Regions from separate parts of the Homo sapiens genome. Here region 1 is linked to region 2. The links come from fine-mapping of genetic effects on gene expression. A gene starts in region 2. The other region holds a variant in brackets. All regions are shown on one strand. Distances are between the middles of the regions.

Region 1 (15,717 bases), 65 kb before region 2:
TCCAGCTGGAGGAGGGGAGGTCAGGTCAGAAGCCTAAGAGGGACCTTGCCCTGCTGGCTTTTAGGAGGGAGGGATGGCGTGATGGGGGACGTGGCTCCCCGAAAGCAGGGAAGTGGGGCCTCAGCCCAGTGGCCACAGGGAGCAGAATCCCGCCCCCGGCCGAGCTCAGGCGCGGACTCTCCCGGAGAACCCAGACCAGGGCCCAGGACAGCAGTGCCTTGACCTTGGCCTTGGAGCCGTGGCCGTGGAGCAGCCAGCCCACCTGGACCTCTGACCTGCTGGGCCCAGAGAGGGCGCGTGGGTGTCGTTGTCAGCAGCTACGTTTGAGGGAAGGTGGATCAGGCCGCACTGGCGAACCTGGAGTTCCTGCTTCTGTGATTTCGGGCCCTCAGTTCCCTCCTCCAGGCGTGGAGCAGCGCCTAACTGTGCGGCCATTGTCAGGACAGGGTGCGTAGCTCCAGCAGTCAGCGCTGAAGTCTCGCTCTAAGCGGTCTTGGAGCTGCCGTCCTCAAGCCCAGCCCGAAGCCAGAAGGGACTCTTCCTCCTCCTCCAGGACCTGATGCCCTCAGGGCTCGGATGCAGGTCCTTGTGACATTTTTGTCACCAAGGCTGGACTTAAGCTCAAGGACAGTGGTGACCGGTCGAGCCACTTGTCTGGGATCAGCATAGCCCGGCTGCTGGCAACGCTTGGCACTCCCCAAGGAGCCAGGTGGGGAGACCTTGTGGCCTGAGGCCGCTGATGTGAGGCAGTGACAGTAGCAGGTGTGGGATGGGCCAGACTACCCTCCACATGGATTGAAGACACACAAGGGCACCTCCATTTCAAAGGACCGGAAGTCTGGAGTGAGTGGGGATTTAGCTTAACGTCTGCTCAGGAGAAAAAGACGTGTAGGTTAGAGGGGACCACAGGCTCAAGCTCAGCATGTTAAAAGGTTTTTAGCGTGTGTGGCTTTTAGCGTGTGTGTGTGTGTGTGTGTGTGTGTGTGTGTGCGCGTGCAGTTGCGGTCTCGCTCTGTTGCCCAGGCTGGTCTCCACCTCCTGGGCTCACGCAGTCCTCCCAGCACTGGGATTACAGCCACGGGCCACCGCACTGGCCCCAAAAGACTGAAAATAAACACAAGACCCGAGCGGGCTCCTCACAGCAGCAGAAGCCGCGTGGAAGCTGCTTGGCTGCCACAGAAAGCCGCACCACCCTGTCCAGGCGGACAGGCCTTTAACCGCCAGGTAGCAGTGAGGCCCGCTCGGAGCATGGGGACCCTGCTTTGGAGCCCCGCAGCCCGGCCTGGAGGCTGTTTCCGCATAAGCATTTGTGTCGTGGAATCTCCTTTCCACTCCCTCACCGGGCCTCCCTCTGGGCTGGGGTCTGGGATCTGGGGTCTGGAATCTCGGGTCTGGGATCTGGGGATCCGGGGATCTGAAGTCTGGGATCTGGGGTCTGGGGATCTGAAGTCTGGGATCTGGGGTCTGGGGATCTGAAGTCTGGGATCTGGGGTCTGAGATCTGGGGTTTGGGATCTAGGGTCTGGGATCTGAGATCTGGGGGTCTGGGGTCTGGGATCTGGGATCTGGGGTCTGGGGTCTGGGGTCTGAGGTCTGGGATCTAGGATCTGGGGTCTGGGATCTTGCGGTCTGGGATCTGGGATCTGGGGTCTGAGATCTAGGATCTGGGGTTTGGGGTCTGAGATCTGGGATCTGGGGTCTGGGGGTCTGAGATCTGGGGTCTGGGATCTGGGGTCTGGGGTCTGGGATCTGGGGTCTGAGATCTGGGATCTGGGGTCTGGGGGTCTGAGATCTGGGGTCTGGGATCTGGGGTCTGGGGTCTGGGATCTGGGGTCTGAGATCTGGGGTCTGGGGTCTGAGATCTGGGGTCTGGAGTCTGAGATCTGGGGTCTGAGATCTGGGGTCTGGGGTCTGAGATCTGGGGTCTGGGTACTGGGGTCTGGGGTCTGGGATCTAGGGATCTGAAGTCTGGGATCTGGGGTCTGAGATCTGGGATCTGGGATCTGAGGTCTGGGTTCTGGGATCTGGGGTCTGGTTCCCCAGATGTGGTTTCTTCCTAAAAGGCATCGGCCTCACATTCCTGGCTTGGGACTCTTGCTCTGTCCAAGGGTACGGGACTGAGTGCCAGCAACCACCACTACTCCACTTGGCTCTGACTCTGGGCCTGGACTTCCTTCTGTTCTCAGGGACAGCAGTGCTGCCTTGGGGGTGCCCGGCACCCTGCTCGCATCTCAGCCACGACGTCCCCCTGGCCCTGTGGCTTCCACTTTCGGGGTTGGCTTGGGATGAAGCACCAAGGCCCCTCCCCAGGGCCTCCTTTATTCCCTTTCCAGGCCTGCATTCGGCACCGTGCTGACCATGCCTGGTGGGGCTGTGGGGTCAGCTGAGCAGCCCTGACCTGGTGGAGCTCCTGACGGCGGGGTCAGATGTCAGGCAGGGCCACGCTCAACTCCGGGTCCTCCCTCGCATGGCGGGGGCTGCTGCGCAGGGGTTGCTGGATCCTACCTGTTGGGCGTGTGACCCTGGCTCGGGCTGGACGCCTTGTTTGCTTCAGGGCAGTGGAGTCTTGACCTCCTCCGGGCACACCCTGTGGAAGACCCACAGTGCCGCCGCTGCCTCCTCCTCCTCCTCCTCCTGTTCCTCCTCCTCCTCCTGTTCCTCCTCCTCCTCCTCCTGTGCCTCCTCCTCCTCCTCCTGTGCCTCCTCCTCCTCCTCCTCCTGTTCCTCCTCCTCCTCCTGTTCCTCCTCCTCCTCCTGTTCCTCCTCCTCCTCCTGTTCCTCCTCCCTCCTCCTGCTCCTCCTCCTCCTCCTCCTGTCTCCACTGCCCCTGGCATCTGGGATGTCCCCACAGTGTCCTAGCACCTGTTCCTCCTCCTCCTCCTCTTCCTGTTCCTCCTCCTCCTCCTCCTGTTCTTCCTCCTCCTCCTCCTCCTCCTCCTGTTCCTCCTCCTCCTCCTCCTGTTCCTCCTCCTCCTCCTCCTCCTGTTCCTCCTCCTCCTCCTCCTGTCTCCACTGCCCCTGGCATCTGGGACACCCCACAGTGTCCTAGCACCTGTTCCTCCTCCTCCTCCTCCTCCTCCTCCTGTTCCTCCTCCTCCTCCTCCTGTCTCCACTGCCCCTGGCATCTGGGACGTCCCCACAGTGTCCTAGCACCTGTTTCTCCTCCTCCTCCTCCTCCTCCTCCTCCTGTTCCTCCTCCTCCTCCTCCTCCTCCTCCTCCTGTCTCCACTGCCCCTGGCATCTGGGACGTCCCCACAGTGTCCTAGCACCTGTTCCTGTGCACGGGGGAGGCTTTGTGCTGGAGCAGGACAGGAGGTTTGGCAAGAGAAGCTGTCAGTTCGGCCACCCGCTCAAGCTGTTCCTGCTCCTGGCCATCTCCGAGCTTGGGAACTTTCCCTCCCATGGCACCAGCCCCTTGGCCCCTCCGGAAGGCCCCGGAAGCCATGGGCAGGGGCTTCCCTCGAAATCGGGGTGCAGTGTGAAGCCCCCACGGCCAACACCCTTGAGCCCTCCCAGGAGAGGGGCCGTGATGGCCGCGGGCCTGAGTTTCCAGAGGACCCACCTGGAGGGAGGTCCTTGGTCGGGGGGAGGGGAGCTTCCTGGGCGCTGGGTTCCGACCCCGTCCTCAGGGCGCTGAGTCTGGCCAGTACACCTTTCCCTGTGAGAGAAGCACGTGGGCTCCTGGGGTATGGGGCGGTGAGGCTGCAGTGCCCCTTCCACCTCCAGGCAACCGGGGCCACTGCCGTTCCTCGTGGGGCGGGGAGAACTTGCTCGCCCTGGACCCCGGCTCCTGCCCTCCTGCCGGGCCCACCTCGTCCTCATCCTAAATTGAGGGGCCGTCCCCCAGCATGCTTGAGAAATGTCAGGCGGTGCTGGGCCGGTCTGGGGCCCCCAGGCTTCCCCGGCGCCGCCTGGCCTGTGCCTGCGCGTGGCAGGGTCCAAGCTCGGGAGCGGTGGCCTCTGCCCGTGGTTGGCAGCCTGGAGCCACTGCGGTCCAGACGCCTCCTGGGATGCTGTGGAAATCCACAGACAGCCTCGTGCCGCCTCACCCCAGGGCACCCGAGTCCTCGTGCTCACGGGAGTCGCGTGGGGCTCAGGGCTGGAGCAGCCTCCTCCCTGGACGAGCTTCTCGTGGCGGCCGCAGCAGTGCTGCAAACTGGGTGGCTTAGAGCAGCCTGTCCCTGTCCTGGAGGCCACAGGAAGCTGAGGTCAAGGAGTAGCTCCAGGGGAGGACCCTTCCTGCCCCTCCCAGCTTCCGGGGCTCCAGGCGCCCTTGGTCTGCGGCCGCGTCACTCCAGCCTCTGCTCCGTCTCCATGCGGCCGTCTCCCGATGTGTGGGTGTCCACGTTCCTCTTTTCTCTTAAGGACATGAGTTGTTAACAGGGACACAGACCACCCCCTCCAGCATCCTCATTGTAACCAACCACGTGTGCAAAGACCCTGTATGCAAATAAGGCCCCACCCACAGGTGCGGGTAGATGTGAGTCTGGAGGGACTGTAGTCACCCCGGTGCCCTCTCTGTCCCTGGCACTCCCTCTTGCACCTCAGGACCAGCCTCCAAATCGTCACTTACCAGATCCTGTCTTGGCCTTGTGGCCCGCAGGCACTGTGGGGTCTGATCCTGCCCCCATACGTCCCCAGCACAGGCTGTCCCTGGGGCTCTGTCCCGTCCACATTGGTGGCCCTGCAGCCCCAACGTCCCCTCCCCTCTGCCAGTTGGAGTCTGGAATGTGGGTGGACGATGGTCTGCTCTCTTCCCACTGAACGCTGTCCGGCGGCTGGACTGGGTGTGCATGTAGCTGGTCTACAGGGTCCTCACATGGGCTAGGGAAACCAGCGTCAGGTTCCTGGTCTCCGTTTCTCTGTGTGTCAGATGAGGGGCTAGACCAGCTCTGGGGAGCTCTGGAGATGGGGTTGAAGGTCAGGAAGGCCTCTCTTGGTCTGGAGGTTGGGCTCCACCTCACAAAGCTGGGAGAAGGTTGCCGGCCTGGAGAAGTCTGGTCCCTCAAGGCCGATGTCAGCTGGTCCCTCCGGGGCGTCAGCCTCCTGCCTCTGGCAGGCTCGTATGGGTGAGAGGAAGCCAGATTTCCACCTTGCAGGGGTTGAGATCCAGGCTCCTGCCCCCAACAGCGTTTCTTTTTTTTTTTTTGAGACGGAGTCTCGCTCTTTCACCCAGGCTGGAGTGCAGTGGCCCGATCTCGGCTCACTGCAAGCGCCGCCTCCCGGGTTCACGCCATTCTCCTGCCTCGGCCTCCCGAGTAGCTGGGACTACAGGCACCCGCCACCACGCCTGGATAATTTTTTGTATTTTTTAGTAGAGACGGGGTTTCACCGTGTTAGCCAGGCTGGTCTCGATCTCCTGACCTCGTGATCCACCCGCCTTGGCCTCCCAAAGTGCTGGGATTACAGGTGTGAGCCACTGTTCCCGGCTGTATTATTTTAAAAAAGAATAAAACCTTAACTTTAAAAGACCCCATCCCTGCTCCCGTCTAGGGTGTGGAGTGGTCCCTGAGCCCTGTGTCCCCCACAAAGGAGCCCCACAGCCTCGGGGCCAGGAGGGCGCCTGCAAAGGCCCCAGGCGCCATCTGTGGCCGTGCCCGCTCACCTTGGGCCAGGACGTCCGTCTGTCTGGCCGGCTGCTGGGGAAGCTGTATGTCGGCTCCTCCCCGCAGGCCTGGCCCAACCCCCCCCCCCCCCCCCCCGCGGCTCCCCAGGGAAGGGAGTGGATCGGCTTTCACCCTCCTGGCCCTGCCGCCTGACTGACGACTCTTTCACAAGACAGCAGAGCCATGACACCCACCACCTGCGTCAGGGAGGCTCCGGGCCTCACAGGTGACCCACACAGCTCCCTACGCAGTTCTGATAACCTTGGCAGCAGACTTGAGAACTTTTAGAAAATTTCAAGAGGAGAGGTAGAAAGCGTAGTATGACGTGGCCGTTCCTAAAATGTGGGTCCTGGGCATCCTGAGACCCGCTTCATCGGGCCCAAGAGGTAAAGCTGTGTTGAGACAGGAAGGCACCCCCACCCCCAGCTCCCAGTGCTCAGGCACTCCCACCCCCACTTCCACCCCCCCAGTGCTCAGGCACCCCCACCCCCATCTCCACCCCCAGTGCTCAGGTACCCCCAGTGCTCAGGCACCCCCACCTCCACCCCCAGTACTCAGGCACCCCTACCCCCAGTACCCAGTACTCAGGCACCCCCAGTACCCAGTACTCAGGCACCCCCACCCCCAGTACTCAGTACTCAGGCGCCCCCAGTACCCAGTACTCAGGCACCCCCACCCCCAGTACTCAGGCACCCCTACCTCCATCTCCAGTGCTCAGGCACCCCCACCCCCAGTGCTCAGGCACCCCTACCCCCAGTACCCAGTACTCAGGCACCCCCACCCCCACCCCCAGTGCTCAGGCACCCCTACCCCCAGTACCCAGTACTCAGGCACCCCCACCCCCACCCCCAGTACTCAGGCACCCCTACCTCCATCTCCAGTGCTCAGGCACCCCCACCCCCACCTCCAGCCTCCAGTGCTCAGGCACCCCCACCCCCACCTCCCGGTGCTCCCGGTCTGGCTGTGCCTGGCTGGAGGAGCAGCCTGAGCTTTCTGGGAAGCACCTCAGGACCCTCCACCCTTTCTTTCCGTCCTCGGGCCCTGCCCACCCTGGGAGGGGCCGTCCAGAGCAAATGCCCCCTTGTGGTCCTGGCAGAGCTGCCCACAGGTTTCCCTGGCCACAGTCTAGTGAGTTACAGAGATTCATGTTACTATGAAAATGATTTCCATTCGGGCCGGGCCTGGTGGCTCACGCCTGTAATTCCAGCACTTTGGGAGGCCGAGGCGGGCGGATCACCTGAAATCGGCAGTTCGAGACCAGCCTGGGCAACATGGTGAAACCCCTTCTCTACTAAAATACGCAAATTATCCGGGCCGTGGTGGCGGGTGCCTGTCATCCCAGTTACTCCAGAAGCTGAGGCACAAAAATCACTGGAACCCAGGAGGCGAAGGCTGCAGTGAGCCGAGACCCCCAGTGGGTCCACAAAAATCACTGGAACCCAGGAGGCGAAGGCTGCAGGGACGAGACCCCCGGTGGCTCCAGCCAGCTGCCTCTGTTCTGTAGCCACCCTCTGTGCGTCCTCCCCCGGGTCTCCCCACTGCCCTTCGGGGGTGTCCACCAGGCACTCACTGCAGCCAGGCGGCCGCCATTGTAATACTGGGCCTCCTGTGAGGCCGCCCCGCAGACCCCCCGAGGCCTGGGCAGGGGTGTGGGAGTGGTTTCTTCATGGGCTCTTGGTGCATGAAGTTGGATGTACCCAGTGGGTGGGGGGCTGCCCATGAGGGCCTGGGGACCGTGAGCGGCTTGCTGGGCCCCAGCCGGGCTGCAGGGATGTGGGTGAGCGGCTGCTCTTCCTCTGCCAGGCCCAGCCCTTCCCGCTCCCTCAGCCTCGCTGCCGGGGCAGCTTCCCCCATCACAAACAGGTGCCAGGCGCAAGCTGCCCACCAGCACCCACAGCCAGAGGGCGGGTGCTGCCCCTGGGGTGGAACGTGTGAGAGGGTGGTGCGGGAATGTGGCCGCGTGGCGGGGCAGGCGGGGGCACCCGGAGGCTGATGGCTGCAGAGAGCAGCACTGGCGTGGGCAGGGGCAGCGCCGGACACTCTGGGGTCTCCCTCACCCACCTCCCTTCCCTGGCCCCCTCCTCTGCCACTGCCCAGCTCTGTGGGGGGCGAAGTCCTCTCAGGCAGGCACCTTGGCCCAGGAGTAGGGGAACCTCACGGATGTCTTGAATGTGTCCCCTCCTGTCCCCCCACTGTCCCCCCGCTGTTCCCCCACTGTCCCCCACTGCCCCCCGCTGTCCCCATCTCCCCGCTGTCTCCCTGTTGTCACCCCGTCCCTTGCTGTCCCCCCGCTGTCCCATCCGCCGCTG[C/T]CCCCCCACTATCCCCCACTGTTTCCCTACTGTCCCCCTGCTGTCCCCCCACCATCCCCCGCTGTCCCCCCACTGCCCCCCACTGTCCCCTGCTGTCCCTCCACTGTCCCCTGCTCTTCCCCCGCTGTCCCACTGTCCCCTGCTGTCCCCCCACTGTCCCCTGCTGTCCCCAACTGTCCCCTGCTGCCCCCTGTCCCCCCACTGTCCCCTGCTGTCCCCAACTGTCCCTTGCTACCCCCTCTTGCTACCCCCGTCCCCCCAAGGTCTCTCACTGGGCTGACCCTCCCTTGGCTCCAGCCCTTCAGGCCTCCCTTGCCCCGGGCTCCATGTTGAGGGACGAAGCGCTCTGTCTGCAGGGGTCAGGACCTGAGACGGCCTGCAGTGTCCTCCCCACCAGACGGTCCTGGCGGCCGAGTTGGGGCCTGCCCAGGTGCCTGAGCTTGCAGGGCTCTCTGCCCCATATTAGCTGAGCCTTGTGAAATCGCCAGCCCCCGCCCCCTGCACCCGGTCCTAGGATGCGAGTTGTGCGCCCGCCAGGTAGAGGGTGATTGCCCTGTCTTGAGCCCATCTGGAGGCCAGTGTGCGGTGGTCATAGCTGCAGGTGGGGTCACGGCTGTGGGGCGGCGGTTGCAGCCGCAGGTGGGGTCATGGCTGCAGGTGGGGTCATGGCTGCAGGTGGGGTCGCGGGTGCAGGTGGGGTCACGGCCGTGGGGCGGCGGTTGCAGCTGCAAGTGGGGTCACGGCTGCAGGTGGGGTCGCGGCTGCAGGTGGGGTCACGGCTGCAGGTGGGGTCGCGGCTGTGGGGCGGCGGTCACAGCTGCAGGAGGCCATCACGGCTGTGAGGTCACCGGAGGCCGCAAGTCCGCTCTGTCTTATGGCCGTGGCTCTGTGCGGGGTTCCCGGGACACCCGGGGGCCTGCTCCTTGCCATCTTCAGGTCCTGGGACGCAGGGAGCGCCTTGTGCCTGCCCGGAGAACCTCGGCTGAGGTAATGCGGCCTCCAGGGACTGTGCGGTGGCCTCTGCCGGGCTCCATCACCACGGTCGCGCCCGCTCGCCCGGGCCTCGCCGCCTCCTCCTCAGACCTCCATGTCCGCCTTTGCTGGCGCAGGCCTTGAGATGCTGCCGGGTGTGCCAGGAGACCAGAACCCGGGCCTGGGCGGAGCGCTCTGGGGTGTGCCGTGCGCCCTGGGTCCTCCCGTGGTCTCGGTTATGGCTCTGCGGCCAGTGTCTTCTCAGGGTCTCCGCTTTGCCGTCGCGAACGTGGGCACAGCGTGGCCTGAGCTGCTGAGTCTGGCTCTGGGGGTCACGTCAAGGCTCCACCTAGGGGCCTCCGTGTCCACATCCGAAAGTGCGGGGGTCACAACCCTGCTCGGCGAGAGGACGGCAGGAGAACCGGGCTCCGAGGACACAGCTCCCCATCTGCAGACGGCTCGGGTCTGAGGGCGGAGCGCGCGAAGGGGCTCCACACGACAGGTGCTCAGGGACCCCCAGGGGGAGGGTCCGCACAGTGGCCAGTTCTGAACATCAGGAGGCTGAGCTGTTGCTGCACAGCGTGGGGTGAGACCCTGGGGCGTCCAGCCAGGAAGACGGGGACTTCAGCAGGCTCAGAAGAAAGAGGCGGGAGGCGGCCGCAGTTACCCGGACTCAGGAGAGAGAGACGGGAGGCAGATGCAGTTACCCAGACTCAGGAGAGAGCTGGGAGGCGGACAGTTATCCGGACTCAGGAGAGAGCTGGGAGGCGGACAGTTATCCGGACTCAGGAGAGAGCTGGGAGGCGGACAGTTATCCGGACTCAGGAGAGAGAGCTGGGAGGCAGATGCAGTTACCCGGACTCAAGAGAGAGAGCTGGGAGGCGGACGCAGTTACCCGGACTCAGGAGAGAGCTGGGAGGCGGACACAGTTACCCGGTTCCTCGGATTCTCCCGGATCTTGGTCCTGTCTGAGGTTCTGCCTTCCCAGTGGTTGTCCTGTCTGGGCCACCAGCACCTTCATCGTTCTCTTTTACAACGACTCCCTTGAAGACCTGATTTCAGAAGGAAGCCACATCCCCTCTGGGTGTCAGCGTGCTGATAAAGCGCGGGCCCCCTCCCAAGGTGGGAACCGTGTGACCCCCGCCCCCCCAACCCCCACACCACGCATCCCTCCAGTCATGGGACTCGCGCCCAAAAATAAAACCAGGCAGGGGACACGCTCTGCTGCCCGCTGGACGTTTGGCTGGCCCGTGGCTCTGAGGCTCGGGGTGGGCCGTGTCACCGGGGCCGCGTGGGGAGAGGGTCTCCGGGGCCGCGTGGGGAGAGCGTCTCCGGGGCTGCGTGGCAGAGGGTCTCCGGGGCCGCGTGGGGAGAGCGTCTCCGGGGCTGCGTGGCAGAGGCTGCGTTGGGGTGTTCTCAGGCCCCAAGACCCCACCCAGTGTCCCACTAGGGTTTATCCTGGGGATTGGGGCAGCTGGATGCCCCAGAGACATGGCGTGGTCACAGCTGCTGCAAGAAACGGCGGCGGAGTCAATGGGGGAAGGGTCCGGAGGGCTCAGGACCATGGGGTGGGAGCCAGCCCTTGGGGGCGTGGGCCCTCGGACAGGACCGAGTCTGCAGGCAGGGCTAGGGGCTGGGGGCTGCGGGAGGGCCTGGGGATCGGGGCAGCAGGGGTTGTGAGATATGGCCGAGGACAGGGTGGGAGGCGATGGGGGGCTGGCAGTGGGCGGAAAGGCAGGGCTGTGGGTCCTGAGGGATTGCAGAGGGTGGGCGTTCTCAGGAGTGGCGGGTCCTGGGGGATTGCAGAGGGTGGGCGTTCTCAGGAGTGGGCACAGCCTGAAGTGTTGGGTTGTGGGGGGACTTGGAAATGGGCCCCGGGTGCAGGGTCGCCCCAGCCCGGCACCCACGCATCCCCTTCTGTCTCTGGATGGGCCCGTCCTGGACAGTGCATAGTAGTGGGATCACACACATCTGTGCCTGGCGTCTCTCACAGAGCGTGACGTCCTCAAGGTGCGTCTGCGCTGTGGCCTAGGTCGGCCTCGCTGCTGTTCATGGCTGTGTCGTGTTCTGGCACGTGGATGGGCCACGCCACATGCTGGTCCACTCGCCTATCCGTGGACACTGGGCTGCTTCCTCGGGTGGCTGTTGTGAGTGGTGCTGCTGTGGACGTGCATGGCCACGTTTCTGTGTGGTGTGGAATTGCTCGGTGGTGTGGTGACTCCAGCGTTAGCCTCTTGAGGAATCCCAGACTGCCAAGCAGCCGTGTGTGAGGATCCGCCTCCGCCTCCGCCTCCTGGTTTTGGGCCCTGACTCTTGGTTGGTTGTGCCTGGTGTCCGCATTGTTCTCCTGCCCCCATCCCCTCCCGGTCCAGGTCTCCACACCCTGCCAGGTCCCCAAGGCATGGACTCCAGGTCACATGCCATGTGTGAAGCCCTCCCCTTGAAGAACCCGGTCCCCTGAGCCTCCTGGGGTTGCCGCCTGGAAGGGGCGTCCACAGACGTGGGGGGCTCAGAGACCGTAGGGAGGGAGGAGCTGCCAGGAGCACCGTGCTGGCCTAGGGGACTCGGACACAGGCGAGCTCAGGGCCCCTGCTGCTGGAGGGGTCCCTCAGCTATGGTGTACCCCGAGGACGGTCATGGGGTCGCCCCAGAGCTGCCCAAGGTGCCCCCTCCCCAAGCTCCGTCCACCGTGGGGCCTGGGCCCTGCTGCCCATCAGCTCAGGACTGTGTGGCCTCAGAGCTGAGGAGCGCCCTGAGTGTGGAAAAGGTCAGCGTAGCTCTGGGGCTGTGGCTGCCGTGAGATGGAACCTGCAGCAGGAAGGGGTGCTGACAGGAGCTGAGGGGAGTCCCTGCAGGGGAGGGGCTGCTGAGCCCCAAGGCAGGGGGTGGGCCACCCCCTAGCACTGGTGGGCCCCTGGATGGGGACCCCGGTATCAGCAGCTGCCTTGGGCCCAGCAGAGCTGTTTGTGGCCACCAGCACACGGGGCCGGGGTCGGGGGGTCCCAGGCTCTACCCAGAGAACCTGTCTCCCAGAGGAACATACCGAGGCTTGGAGGAGCTTGGGTGTCTGAGGTTATTCAACTCAGAAGGTGGAGCCAGGCTTTGATCCTGCCTGACCCAGAATCTTTGACAAGGATTGGCCAAGACCCCAGATCCCAGCGGGCCTGTCCCTTCCCCTAAAGGGCCGTTCTGGCAAGGGTGTCGCAGGTCCCCGTGGGCAGCTGGAAGGGCTGCCAAGGGTCCCAGCTCTGGTGGCAGTGGGTTGTAGCGTCCTGACTGCAGGGAGCAGGCAGAGGCCGCGGACAGTTGGGACGGCCTGGCAGGGTGACCCCCACTGTGCCTGACCACCTCCATCTGGTCTCTGGGACAGGAGTCCCGACCCCCAGCCCCTGTTGCCCGGCCACTGTCTCTGGAGCGCCGGGCAGAGACGTGCCTCTCCCCCACGGGATTGCACAAGTGCCTGCGTGTGGCTGGACGGCAATTACTGGAAGTCCCGGAGATTTCTTCACTCCAGGGCTTGGCCGGGAGTGGCCGCCGCCTCCCCTTCCTGCCGCCCTCGGCAGTGAGCATGCTGGGCGGACGCCTGGAAAGCTTTCCCTGCCACCACGGGCCAGCCTGGGTCCCTGCACTCGCCAGGTAGGGCCTGGTGGGGGCTCAGCCTGGCGGGCGTCTGGCCGTGTGCCAGAGGCCGCGGGGCACGTGGGAGCTGTCCCTGGCGTCTGATGGTGTGGGGCTCGGCTCTGTAGCCCAGGAACGTTCTCAGTGGGGATGCTGGTGTGTGATTAGCCTGAAACGAGGTCTGGGTGCTCTTCCAGCTCTGCGTGGCCCCTGACCCCCCTCCTTGGGAGACCTCACTGTGGAGCCCCTGCTGCCTCTGAGGGACAGGGCTGGGTCCAGTGTCCCCTGGGCTCCCCTGGGTGCCGGGCCCGGGTTGGACTCTCCCTCCACAGTCTCACACCGGCTGCTGACAAAGCCAGATGTGGGGGAGTCAGCCTGCAGCTCCACTGCTCACAGTCTGGGTGCCTGGTCCTACGGCTGCCCTGTGACCTGGGCAGCCCTGTCGGGCCCACCTTAATCGTTGTAGTTGGGGCCGGGGAGGCCAGGAAAGGCGCTGTGGGCAGCACAAAGGAGTTGGGTGGCACTGCTGATGGCGGGTGGGGGTGAGTGGGGAGGGGAAGGAGCGCCTTTTGGTTCCGGCCCAGGAGGTAGCAGGAGCTGCAGCCCAGGCTGGGACCGGTCATGCCCGAGGGAGAGGCGGCCGGGGAGCACCACTCTCCACCACCGTTGGACTCTCAGGACGTCCCCGTCTCCCTCTGCAGATCATGATGCTGCCGCCACCGCCGCCACCACGGAGCGAGAAGCCCAGATAGACGCCCCGGCGGCCCCGGGTCCTGGAGTCCCGCCGCCTGCTGCCCGGCCGAGGACCCCACCCCGCCTGCCGCCCGATGCTTGCAGTGGGGCCCGCCATGGACAGGGATTACCCGCAGCATGAACCCCCGCCGGCGGGCAGCCTCCTGTACAGCCCGCCGCCCCTGCAGGTGAGCCCCACCCCCGGCCCCGGCCCACCCGACGGGGTCCACGGGCACTTGCCCCGCTCCGAGTGCCCGGGGTCACGTCGTGCGGAATGCTGCCCCAGTGGACGCGGCGTGATCTCCACCTGACCTTCCTGGCCCGGAGCCCGGCTCCACCCGCCCCCGTGGGCCCTGGAGAAGGGTCCCCATGGGGATGTGAATGGGAGGCTACTCATGGCCCCAGCTTTTCAAGAAGCACATTTGAGGAGATTCTCCCTGCTGCAGAGCTTCCAGTTCCTTCGCCGTCAGCTGTAGGGGGGGCTCAACTTTACTTGTAGGAACCTGTCAGTGAGGGAATTACTTAAAAAATATGTTTCTGGCCAAGTGGCTCGTGCTTGTAATCCCAGCACTTTGGGAGGTGGAGGTGGGCAGATCACCTGAGGTCCCGAGTTCAAGACCAGCCTGGCCAACATAGTGAAACCTCGCTTCTGCTAAAGATACCAAACTTAGCCAGGCGTGGTGGCGGACGCCTGTAATCCCAGCTACTCGGGAGGCTGAGGCAGGAGAATTGCTTAAATCTAGGAGGCAGAGGCTGCAGTGAGTGGAGACGGCGCCACTGAACTCTAGCCTGGGCGACAAGAGTGAGACTCCATCTCAAAAAAATGAAAAATAGGCCTGGCACGGTGGCTCACGCCTGTAATCCTAGCACTTTCAGAGGCCAAGGCGGGCAGATCACTTGAGGTCAGGAGTTTGAGACCAGCCTGGCCAACATGGTGAAACCCTGTCTCTACTAAAAATACAAAAAATTAGCCTGGCGTGGTGGCAGGTGTCTGTAATCCCAGCTACTTGGGAGGCTGAGGCAGGAGAATCGCTTGAACCTGGGAGGCAGAGGCTGCAGTGAGCAGAGATTGCACCACTGCACTCCAGCCTGGGTGACAGAGCGAAACTGTGGCTCAAAAAGAAAAAAAAAAATTTTTAAATTAAAAATATATAAACGTGTATATATATATTTATTTTTATTTTATTTCATTTTATTTTATTTTGTTTTGTTATTTTTAAAACACGGTTTCACTCTGTTGCCCAGGCTGGAAGTGCAGTGGTGCGATCTCGGCTCACTGCAGCCTCTGCCTCCTGGGCTAGTGATTCTCCTGCCTCAGCCTCCTGAGTAGCTGGGACCACAGGTACGCGCCACCATGCCCGGCAGATTTTTAAAATTTTCTCGTAGAGATGAGGTTTTGCCCCGTTGGACACGCTGGTCTCAAACTCCCGGGCTCAGTTGACCCGCCTGCCTTGACCTCCCAAAGTGCTGGGATTACAGGCGTGAGCCACCGCGCCCGGCCCTGCCTGGGGATTTACCTGGAGACAGAGGGGCTGCCCTCTCCTATCAAGCAGCAGGACCTGCTCCAGGACTCCAGGGTCTCCTGGGTACTCCCTAGCCCAACACCCAGGTTGGCCTGTGGGGCGAACATCACAGACACCCCTCGGCAGTCCATCCTCAGAGGGCTTTGGGCAGCTTCCTGCCATGTTCTGACCGTCCAGAGGGGGCTCTGAGCTGGGGCCAGGGTACCCCTCTCGTAGCAGGGTCCCTGTTGCGGCCCAGACCCCTCCTGTCCCCCTCCCTAGTTCCTGAGTCCCTTGGGGTTGAGGCTGGATCCTCACAGCTGCCCCGGTGGAGCTCGAGTACCGGCCGTCGGTCAGCCTCCTGGGCCACCATAAAGGGGACTGGCCAAGCCACATCCCCACCGGAACAGCTCCATCCCCCGAAACCCGCCAGGAGCTTGTTCCGATCCAAGAATTCTATCTCGGAAACACACCCTGGGGACTAATCCAGGAGGGAGGGGAAGACAGAGCGGCACTATTTATAGTGGCAGGAAACTGGAATCTCCCCAGAGGCTCTACGGTGGGGAAATAATTAAGCGAATTATGGGATGTGGAGACAGAGGAGCCATCTTCAAGGATCCGAGCGGGAGCAGGAAGGTGTTAGCAGTGACAGTCGGGGAATGCGACAGGGCTGGAACCCGGCGGGGGCACTGGACACCAGCCACAGGGCTCAGGCCGGGGCGCACCCGTGCGCGTAACCGGCTTTGCTCCCCATCCCGTGTGTGAGGCTCATCCCACCCTCCCTGTTCCGGGTTCCGTCACATTCGGGTACGTCATGGACACCTCTGGGCAGGGTCGACTGAGTTCGCACACGCACAGCCCAGCCTCTTCCAGTGCCCAGAGTATTCAATTAGAAATAAAAATACACCGGCCAGCACAATGGTTCACGCCTGAAATCCCAGCACTCTGGGAGGCCGAGGTGGGCACATTGCTTGGGGTC
Region 2 (9,215 bases):
CATCTCCAATTCCTCTCCTCCCTCAAATCCGTCCTGCCAGGCACTGGCCCCCTTCCCTGAGTCACAAGCAATGTCTGCTAGGCGAATCCCTGCTCAGTCCTCAGGCTGACTTGGCGGTGGCATCACATAGCCACTCCCTTCCCTCTGCCCCTAGACACCTTCCTCACCAGGTTTCCAGGAGACCTGGCAACCTCCTGCCCTTTATCCTATTTAGGGAACACTTATGCAGTGCTGGTGTCAGGCGCCACTCTGTGTACATTGCAATTATTAGCCAATTACCCTACGAAGTGGGTGCTGTTCTTGTCCCTGTTTTACAAGGGAGGGGAGAGGGGACGCACAGAGAGGTTGAGTAACCTGCCTGAGATCACACAGCCAGGTCTGCAGCTCAGGGGCTGCTCCAGTGTCTGTGCTGAGCCTCCCTCCCCTCCTGCTGCTGCCTCCCCTCCTTCTCCGGGCTTCTGAACACCAGCAGGGCTGGACTTACTCTCCTGGACTCTGCTCTGCTCCCAGGACCTGGTCCAGGCTCCCGGCTCTAATCTTCACCACGTGGCCACCCTGCCTGCACGTCCATCCCCCAGACCTTGCCCTGAACTCCAGAGCTCACCTCGACCTACACGCCTCCACCCTCCCACCCCTCTTTTCACTGCTCACAGGGACAGCTTTGTTCCCTTTCTCCCTCTTTTTCTCGCCCTGTGGCACCCTCCCCGCTCTGTGCTTGCCCCTACCGTAGTTGGAGCCACCCCAACCTGTGGCAAGTTTGCCTTCCCACTCCCTCCCTGGTCTCTTGCTTCTGCCCTGGCTCCCAACAGTCATTTCCCAACACAGCAGCTCCAGACATTTTACCCTGACCAGCAAGGCTTCATGGGACCTGCCCCACCTTGCCCTCTGACCCCCTCCTGCCCCTTCCCTGCCAGGAACACTCCAGGTGAGGCACAGCCCCAGAGCCTCTATCCTGGCTGTGCTGTCTGCCTGATACAGCTATCCCCAGGCAACCCCAGGTTTCCTCCCTCTCCTCTTCTGGTTTTTGTTTGTTTTCTGTTTGTTTGGAGACAGTGTCTTGCTCTGTCGCCCAGGCTAGAGTGCAGTGGCGCAATCACAGCTCACTGCAGCCTCAACCGCTGGGCTCAGGCGATCCTAGATCTTCCCACCTCAGCCTCCCGAGTAACTGGGACTACAGGTGCGCCCACCACGCCCAGCTAATTTTTAAATTTTTTTGTAGAAATGGGGTCTTCCTGGCCGGGTGCGGTGGCTCACGCCTGTAATCTCAGCACTTCGGAAGGCCGAGGCAAGCAGATGATCTGAGGTCAGAAGTTCAAGACCAGCCTGGCTAACATGGTGAAACCCCATCTCTACCAAAAATACAAAAAAATTAGCCAGGTGTGGTGGCTCACGCCTGTAATCCCAGCTACTCGGGAGGCCAAGGCAGGAGAATCCTTTAAACCCAGGAGGCGGAGGCTGCAGTGAGCTGAGATTATGCCACTGTACTCCAGCCTGGGCAACAGAGCGAGACTCGGTCTCAAAAAACAACAACAACAACAAAAAAGAAATGGGGTCTTCCTATGTTGCCTAGGCTTGTCTCAAACTCCTGGCCTCAAGGTGAGAAAGAAAAGTTAGGTAGTTAGATAAGAAAGCCTGCACAGACCGGGCGGGGTGGCTCACACCTGTAATCCCAGCACTTTGGGAGGCCGAGGCGGGCGGATCATGAGGGCAGGAGATGGAGACCATCCTGGCTAACACGGTGAAACCCCGTCTCTACTAAAAATACAAAAAATTAGCCGGGCGTGGTGGCAGGTGCCTGTAGTCCCAGCTACTCGGGAGGCTGAGGCAGAAGAATGGCGTGAACCCGGGAGGTGGAGCTTGCAGTGAGCCGAGATCCTGCCACTGCACTCCAGCCTGGGGGACAGAGCGAGATTCCGTGTCAGGAAAAAAAAAAAAAGTAGCCCCTGACAGCCCCCCAAAAAGAATCTCAAATATCAGTGTAAAAAAGTCCGTGACTTACAACTAAAAATTACAAAACTACAACAAAGGGATCCTCCCCTCTCAGCTTCCCAAAGTGCTGGGATTACAGGTGTGAGCTATCGCGCCCAATGGGATTTTTTTTTTTTTTTCTCGATGGAGTCTTGCTCTGTCACCCAGGCTGGAGTGCAGTGGTGCGATCTCGGCTCACTGCAACCTCCGCCTCCCGGGTTCAAGTGATTCTCCTGCCTCAGCCTCCCGAGTAACTGGGAGTACAGGCACCCACCACCAAACCTGGCTAATTTTTGTATTTTTAGTAGAGACAGGGTTTCACCATGTTGGCCAAGCTGGTCTGGAACTCCTGATCTCATGCTCTGCCTGCCTCGGCCACCCAAAGTGCTGGGATTACAGTGATGAGCCACCACTGCTAATGGGATTTTTGCTTGAATCTATCCTCACTGTATTCCCTGACCTCCCCATGTGATACTGCAGTTCTCCCATTCTCCCCATGTCACTTAGCCTCCCTGCTCTTTCTTCTTCCGTAGCTTTGTCACTTTCTAACGTTGTTATTTATTTTATTTTATTTCATTTCATTTTATTTTTGAGACAGAGTCTTGCTCTGTTGTCCAGGCTGGAGTGCAGTGGCACGATCTTGGCTCACTGAAACCTCCACCTTACAGGTTCACGAGATTCTCCTGCCTTAGCCTCCTAAGTAGCTGAGACTACAGGCACCTGCCACCTGGCCCAGCTAATTTTTTGTATTTTTAGTAGAGACGGGGTTTCACCGTGTTAGCCAGGATGGTCTTGAACTCCTGATCTCATGCTCTGCCCGCCTCAGCCTCCCAAAGTGCTGGGATTATAGGCATGAGCCACCGCGCCCGGCCACGTTATTTATTATATTTTACTAAATCCTGTCTTTATCTGAATGCAAGGGATACTTGGCCTGTTTTATTCACCATCACTGTAGGTTGCTGAGTAAATGTTGAATTAACGAATGCATCACTGAATAAGTTACTGATAGCCTGCACACAGGAAGTGTTGGGCTGGGGTTCTCCGTGAACCTGGGGAAGTGAGGAGGTTTGCAAAGACAGGAAGAGTCTGGGGTGGGGAGATACCCAGGCTAGGCTGGGGAGATACCCAGGCTAGGCTGGTGGCGCTCAGGGGAGAGGACAGAGGTGAGGGGACTTAATAAGCACCTAGAGAGATGCCTAAGACTCTCAGTTAACCGTCTAAAGTAGGGACACTTTATTGCCATTGCACAGGTAGGGAAACTGAGGCCCAAGGGAATTAACCCTGACCTGGCCAGGAGCCAATGGAGGAAACCCTGTACAGTTTGATGCACAAATATTTATAGAGTTCCCACTAGGCTCCCAGACCATCCCTAGGAGCCGAGCTGCCCCTTGACCCCATCCAGGCCTCAGTTTCCCCGCTCACACTTCGCCCCCGCCTCGTGGGATTCTAAACTGTTGCTCCAAGGTGGGAGTTGAACGGAAACTACAACTCCCGAGAGGCTGTGCGGCCAAAGACACACGAGAACTACGGAGGCGAGAGACTCGCTCAGCCAACTGCCGCTCTCGTAAGGCTCGGGCTGCCCTTGGCGCTGCCGATCCGAGACGTTGCTGCATTCAGGCATTCGCCGACGACAGACCAGCGCGGGGCGGGGTTAGGCGGAGGGGGCCTGATTCGGATTCGGCGCAGGCGCAGTCCGCGCGGGTTCTCGCGCGGAGAAGGGGTGCGAGCGGCGGCGGCGGCGGAGGCTGCCATGGACGACGAGGAGGAGACGTACCGGCTCTGGAAAATCCGCAAGACCATCATGCAGGTGAGCCGCGCCTGGTGTTGGGGGCGGGGGCGCGGGCGGCGGGTGTAGGGGCCCGAGGTGGGGTCGAGCACGGCGTCTCCTCGTACTCTCGTCGGAGCAGCAGCGATGAAGGGCCGGGCCGATACGGGAGGCCCAGAGGTCGCCGGGGATACCAGGCGCTGGACCCGACCTGAGCCGGCAGCGGGGAAGGGAGGGGGTTTCGAGACGTCTGGGTGCGGTGCTTAGGGGTGGGTGGGCGGCTTGGGCTGGTGCGGCGCGCGTGGCGGCGAGAGGAGGAGGAAGCCGCGAATGGGGACGGGGGGCGCCCCCAGACTCTGCCCTTCTCTGTGATTCAGCGTCGCTATTTGTCCTTGCGTCCTGAACCCCATGGAGTCTTCAGCATCCGAGGCTGGCAGAGTTGGTGGTTGGGAAGCAGCGGGCGAGCTGGGGCTTTCGATGGGGACGTGGAGCTCGGAACCCGTGCCTTGGGGTCTGGGGCAGATGGAGGCCACTGGGTCGAGTCCGGTTTGGAAGCCGGGCACAGGCCTGAGGACCTGCGGTTCAGGGTATTGCCTCAGCCATTGGGGCCGTTTGAGAGCTTTTGCTTTGTCTTGCTTCCCACCCTTTGCCCTTGTCCTCAGCGAAGCCCCCCGCAGCCTGATTCTTCTTTCTCCGATCCTCAAACATTGTCAGCCTGAAGTCACATCTGTTTCGGTCCCTGTCATTTTTTTTTTTTAAGAGATAGGGTTTCATTCTGTCGCCCAGGCTGCAGTGCAGTGGTGCAATCATAGCTCACTGCATCCTTGAACTGGCCTCCAGCAACCCTCCTGCCTCAGCCTCCCTAAGTACTGGGATCACGGGCGTGAGCCTCCGCGCCCCGCCTTTGTCCCTGCCTTTAGGGTAGCTCTGCAAAGTGGTTTGGAGGGCTTTGCTCCCTGCCAGGTTTCTGTGAGGCTGGGTGGACAGACGGTCTTGGTCAAGGCTGGACATCTCTGGGAGCCTCTCAGGATCATACTGGTCCCATCCTGTGGTGTGAGGCTGTGGGGGCCGGGGTGGCTGTCATGGAGCACACAGTGAGTGTTCATCCCGTTTGCTGTTCACCTCTGTCCTCTGCAGCAGCCGCAGGTCTGACTTCCGGGTCACGAGCTTTGGCCGCCTTCCTCTCTCTGCCCTGGGGTCAGCTGGTTCTTTCTCTCTGCAGCTGTGCCACGACCGTGGCTATCTGGTGACCCAGGACGAGCTTGACCAGACCCTGGAGGAGTTCAAAGCCCAATCTGGGGACAAGCCGAGTGAGGGGCGGCCGCGGCGCACGGACCTCACCGTGCTGGTGGCCCACAACGATGACCCCACCGACCAGATGTTTGTGTTCTTTCCAGGTGAGCAGCGGGTCCCGGGGGAGTTCCGGTGAAGCCACCAGAGCACCTGCCGAGGAGCCGGTCGCTAGCACCCACCCCCACTCGCCTGGTGCCCAGCATTTGTCTCTCTGCCCAGTCTGGGAGGAAAACTCCCCTCCCCTTCCTTGCTGTGGGTGATGCCGTTGATCTCTGACCCCTCTCATGCTCAGCTTCTTTCTAGTTTCCCTCTCAGTCCCCTTCTCTCTTCCTGCCAACGAGGAGAGTCACAAGGGCCTCCCCACTCACCCCCAGCCCCCCATGTCCTTTGCCCTAGTGTCCCTTGGCTCCCCCATCCTGGCCGTTGGGTGCACTTCCAGCTTCTTGGCCTGGCCCAGGAGGCCCCGTCTGGGTCAGCGCAGCCTCCTTGTGAGCTGCGGCCCCTGCCCGCCCCAGCCCATTCCTCCGCACCCCATGCCCCCTCTCCCCTGTCAGCGTCCGGTACTCGTCCCTCGAGCTTGTGCTCGGGCCTCTTTTCCCAGGACCCCTGGGACCCTCGGTTTCAGCACCTGCTTTGCGGAAGTCTCCGCACCTGTCTGCCTCCCTAGTATGGCTCTAAAGCCCTCAGCGGTTGGGGGATTGCAAGCGCCTTAGGGGCGCAGCCCCACGCCCAGAATTAATCAGTGGGGTGACGGAGCACGTCTGCCAACCGGACCTGGTGACGCTGCTGGGTTTTTTTGTTTTTTTTTTGTTTTTGTTTTTTGAAAAAGAGTCTCAATCTGTCGCCCAGGCTGGAGTGCAGTGGTGCCATCTCGGCTTGCTGCAGCCTCCACCTCCTGAGTTCAAGCGATTCTCCTGCCTCAGCTTGAGTAGCTGAGATTACAGGCACCCACCACCACGCCTGGCTAGTTTTTCTTTGCATTTTAGTAGAGATGAGGTTTCACCATGTTGGCTAGACTGCTTTCAAACTCCTAATCTCAGGTGATCCGCCCGCCTCGGCCTCCCAAAGTGCTGGGATTACAGGCGTGAGCCACCGCGCCCAGTCTTTTTTTTTTTTTTTTTTTTTGAGACTGAGTCTCCCTCTGTCACCCAGGCTGGAGTGTGCAGTGGCGCAATCTCAGCTCACTGCAACCTCCACCTCCCAGGTTCAAACAATCCTTCCACCTCAGCCTCCCAAAAAGCTAGGTTTACAGGCATACACCATCTCACCTGGCTACTTTTTCTTTTTGTATTGTTTATTAATTAATTAATTAATTTTTTTGAGACAGAGTCTTGCTCTGTTGCCCAGGCTGGAGTGCAGTGGCGCAATCTCTGCCCACTGCAAGCTCTGCCTCCCGGGTTCACGCCATTCTCCTGCCTCAGCCTCCCGAGTAGCTGGGACTGCGGGCGTGGGCTAATTTTTTGTATTTTTAGTAGAAACGGGATTTCACCTTGTTAGCCAGGGTGGTCTCGATCTCCTGACATCGTGATCTGCCCACCTTGACCTCCCAAAGTGCTGGGATTACAGGTGCGAGCCACCGCGCCCATCCTGTATTGTTAATAGAGACCGGGTTTCACCATGTTGGCCAGGCCGGTTTAGAACTGTTGACTTCAAGTGATCCACCTGCCTCAGCCTCCCAAAGTGCTAGGATTACAGGTGTGAGCCACCGCACCCGGCCTCAGGTGATGCTTCTTAAAGAGAGCGTCCTGGGGTGTGAGGTCTGCTTGTTGGAGAGGTTGGTGCTGAGTCACCCGCCTCCCCAGAACTGCCCAGGGTGGGAGCCTCTCAGAGTCGAAGGTCTCTGCTTCTCCCTGGTCTCTGGGTGACTGAGGGGTGTCAGCCCCCTGTCCCTGTCTCCGGGTGAATGAGAGGTTTCAGCCCTCTCTTCCCCTGTCCTGGGATCCTGCAACTCAGGCCTCGTTTTGCAAACGCGGAAGCCGAGGCCCGAGCAGGAGAGACACCTGTGTGGAATGGGGCTGGAACCTGGGTGCTCTGGGCTCTGGGTGGGCGAGGGCCACGAGGGCCCAGGCTCGTGCAGGCCAGCACACTCTCTGTCTGCAGAGGAGCCCAAGGTGGGCATCAAGACCATCAAGGTGTACTGCCAGCGCATGCAGGAGGAGAACATCACACGGGCTCTCATCGTGGTGCAGCAGGGCATGACACCCTCCGCCAAGCAGGTGGGCACCCCTGCCCCACCCCGCCAGCCTCTCCCCCTCCCCAGCCTCCTCCCGCAAGCAGTACCCACAGGCGGCCCACGTGCCTTGGGCTTTGGGCCAGGCCAGCCAGGGTGCCCTGGAGGATGTGGCCGGGATGTCCGGCAAGCCCCGACCGCCTCCCTCCCACCGCGTCCATGGGCCCCACCCCAGGCAGCCGCCGTCCTCCCCCAGCTCTCAGGAGGGGCGTCAGGGCGGAGGGCACTGTGCCTCTCGCCAGCTCCTGTGGGCTCCAGCCCTCGGCCTGGTGCAGATTCCAGGAGCCGGAGGTTCTTTATCCTGAGCTGATGTCCAGGGGGACTTGCAGAGGAGGCCCGGCACGGGGTCCTCCAGGGGCCTATCCGTGTTCCCCGTCTGTCTGTCGGACACTCTGGAGCCAGGCTGCTGTGCTGTGACGGGCAGTCAGCAGAGCAGTTTAGTCCCTGGCCCACCAGCTGTGGGGTTCACGCAGCCACACAGAGCAGCACCCCTGTATGGGGAAGAGGTCGCCCTGCCAGCTCTGAGGGCCGCCCCTGGAAGCGTGTGATGGATGGAAACACATCCGAGTTTCCACGGCCACTTCACTGCTGGATGAGGCTCTCGATGAGCAGAGAGGCTGGGGAGGGGCGGGCTGTTGAAGGCTCCTGGGCTGGCGGTGGGGTTTTCTGATTCACGACGTGGGTGTGTTGTTGGGGCACACGAGTAAGCCCCAGGTAGCTTGAGGCAGGAAATGGGGTTGGGGTTGTCTGGGCCCCTCCGGGCCGTGCCTTAGAGCCGCTCTCTTCCAGTCCCTGGTCGACATGGCCCCCAAGTACATCCTGGAGCAGTTTCTGCAGCAGGAGCTGCTCATCAACATCACGGAGCACGAGGTGGGCGCGCGCCGCGGAATCCCGCCTGCGTGGGGCCGGCAGAGATGCAGCGTTTGTGGGTGGCCAGGAAGATGTGGGATCTGGGGCCCAGGGCAGGTGTTCCTATTAGTGCATGGAGGACAGGGTTCTCAAAGGGTGGCCCTGGGCCTGCAGCAGCCGAACCCGGGAGCTTCCTAGAAATGCAGATCCCGGCCGGGCGCGGTGGCTCACACATGTAATCCCAGCACTTTGGGAGGCCGAGGCGGGCGGATCACGAGGTCAGGAGTTCCAGACCATCCTGGCTAACACGGTGAAACCCCGTCTCTACTAAAAATACAAAAAAATTAGCCAGGCGTGGTGGCGAGCGCCTGTAGTCCCAGCTACTCGGGGAGCCGAGATTGTGCCACTGCACTCCAGCCTGGGAGACAGAGCAAGACTCCATCTCAAAAAAAAAAAAAAAAAAAAAAATGCAGATCCCGGGCCCACCCCAGCCTGTAGAATCGGGACTGCTGGGAGTGTGGAGGGACCCTAGTGCTGGGACAGGAGGAGTCCCAGCAGGAGGTGGCTGTGCCCAGCCCGTCTGCCTCAGAAGCCCCAGGAGCTGTGACTCCGTCCCCCGCCTGTGGAGCCAGGGTGGGGTGGGTGGGCTCCCTGAGTGCCGGGGATCGGGGTGGGGTTCAGGGCTCTTGTCCGTCTGAAGGCGCAGGGGCTGTGGTGGCACCTGGGAGCCACGTGGGGTCTCACCAGCCCTTGGTGATGCCTGGTGGCTTCCTCTCTCGGCAGCTAGTCCCTGAGCACGTCGTCATGACCAAGGAGGAGGTGACAGAGCTGCTGGCCCGATAGTATCCTTTCCAGCCCCACCGGCCCCGCCCCTCCCTGTCCCTCGAGACTTCCGCGTTCCCCCCCCACACACACCCCTGCCCCCCCAACGGCCCTGTCTGGCATTTTCCTGACGGTGCTTCGCAGTAAGCTCCGAGAGAACCAGCTGCCCAGGATCCAGGCGGGGGACCCTGTGGCGCGCTACTTTGGGATAAAGCGTGGGCAGGTGAGCCCTGTGGGGAGAAGGGGCCCTGGGGCTGCTCTGAGCTGACCACTCGGAGAAGGGGGCTT

The links. PIP is the estimated chance that this variant, and not a neighbour inherited with it, causes the effect. A credible set is the group of variants that fine-mapping cannot tell apart.
Region 1: its variant is the best candidate, but not a certain one, in a credible set for the expression of POLR2E in whole blood (INTERVAL, PIP 0.62).

The regions. Positions count from the first base shown.
Region 1 is chr19:1,151,891-1,167,607 of GRCh38, reverse strand. SBNO2 (strawberry notch homolog 2) reads left to right here. Exons shown (of 32, transcript NM_014963.3): 2 at 13,206-13,424. The coding sequence starts at 13,332. LOC102723798 (a long non-coding RNA gene) reads right to left here and starts at 4,157. Exons shown (of 4, transcript XR_007067079.1): 1 at 4,077-4,157; 2 at 3,562-3,657; 3 at 2,398-2,586; 4 at 1-867. The variant C/T (reference allele first, on the strand shown) is at 7,915.
Region 2 is chr19:1,089,819-1,099,033 of GRCh38, reverse strand. POLR2E (RNA polymerase II, I and III subunit E) reads left to right here and starts at 3,659. Exons shown (of 8, transcript NM_002695.5): 1 at 3,659-3,775; 2 at 4,956-5,130; 3 at 7,127-7,242; 4 at 8,046-8,126; 5 at 8,889-8,947; 6 at 9,072-9,150. The coding sequence starts at 3,719. RefSeq lists enhancers at 3,626-3,715, 4,473-5,008.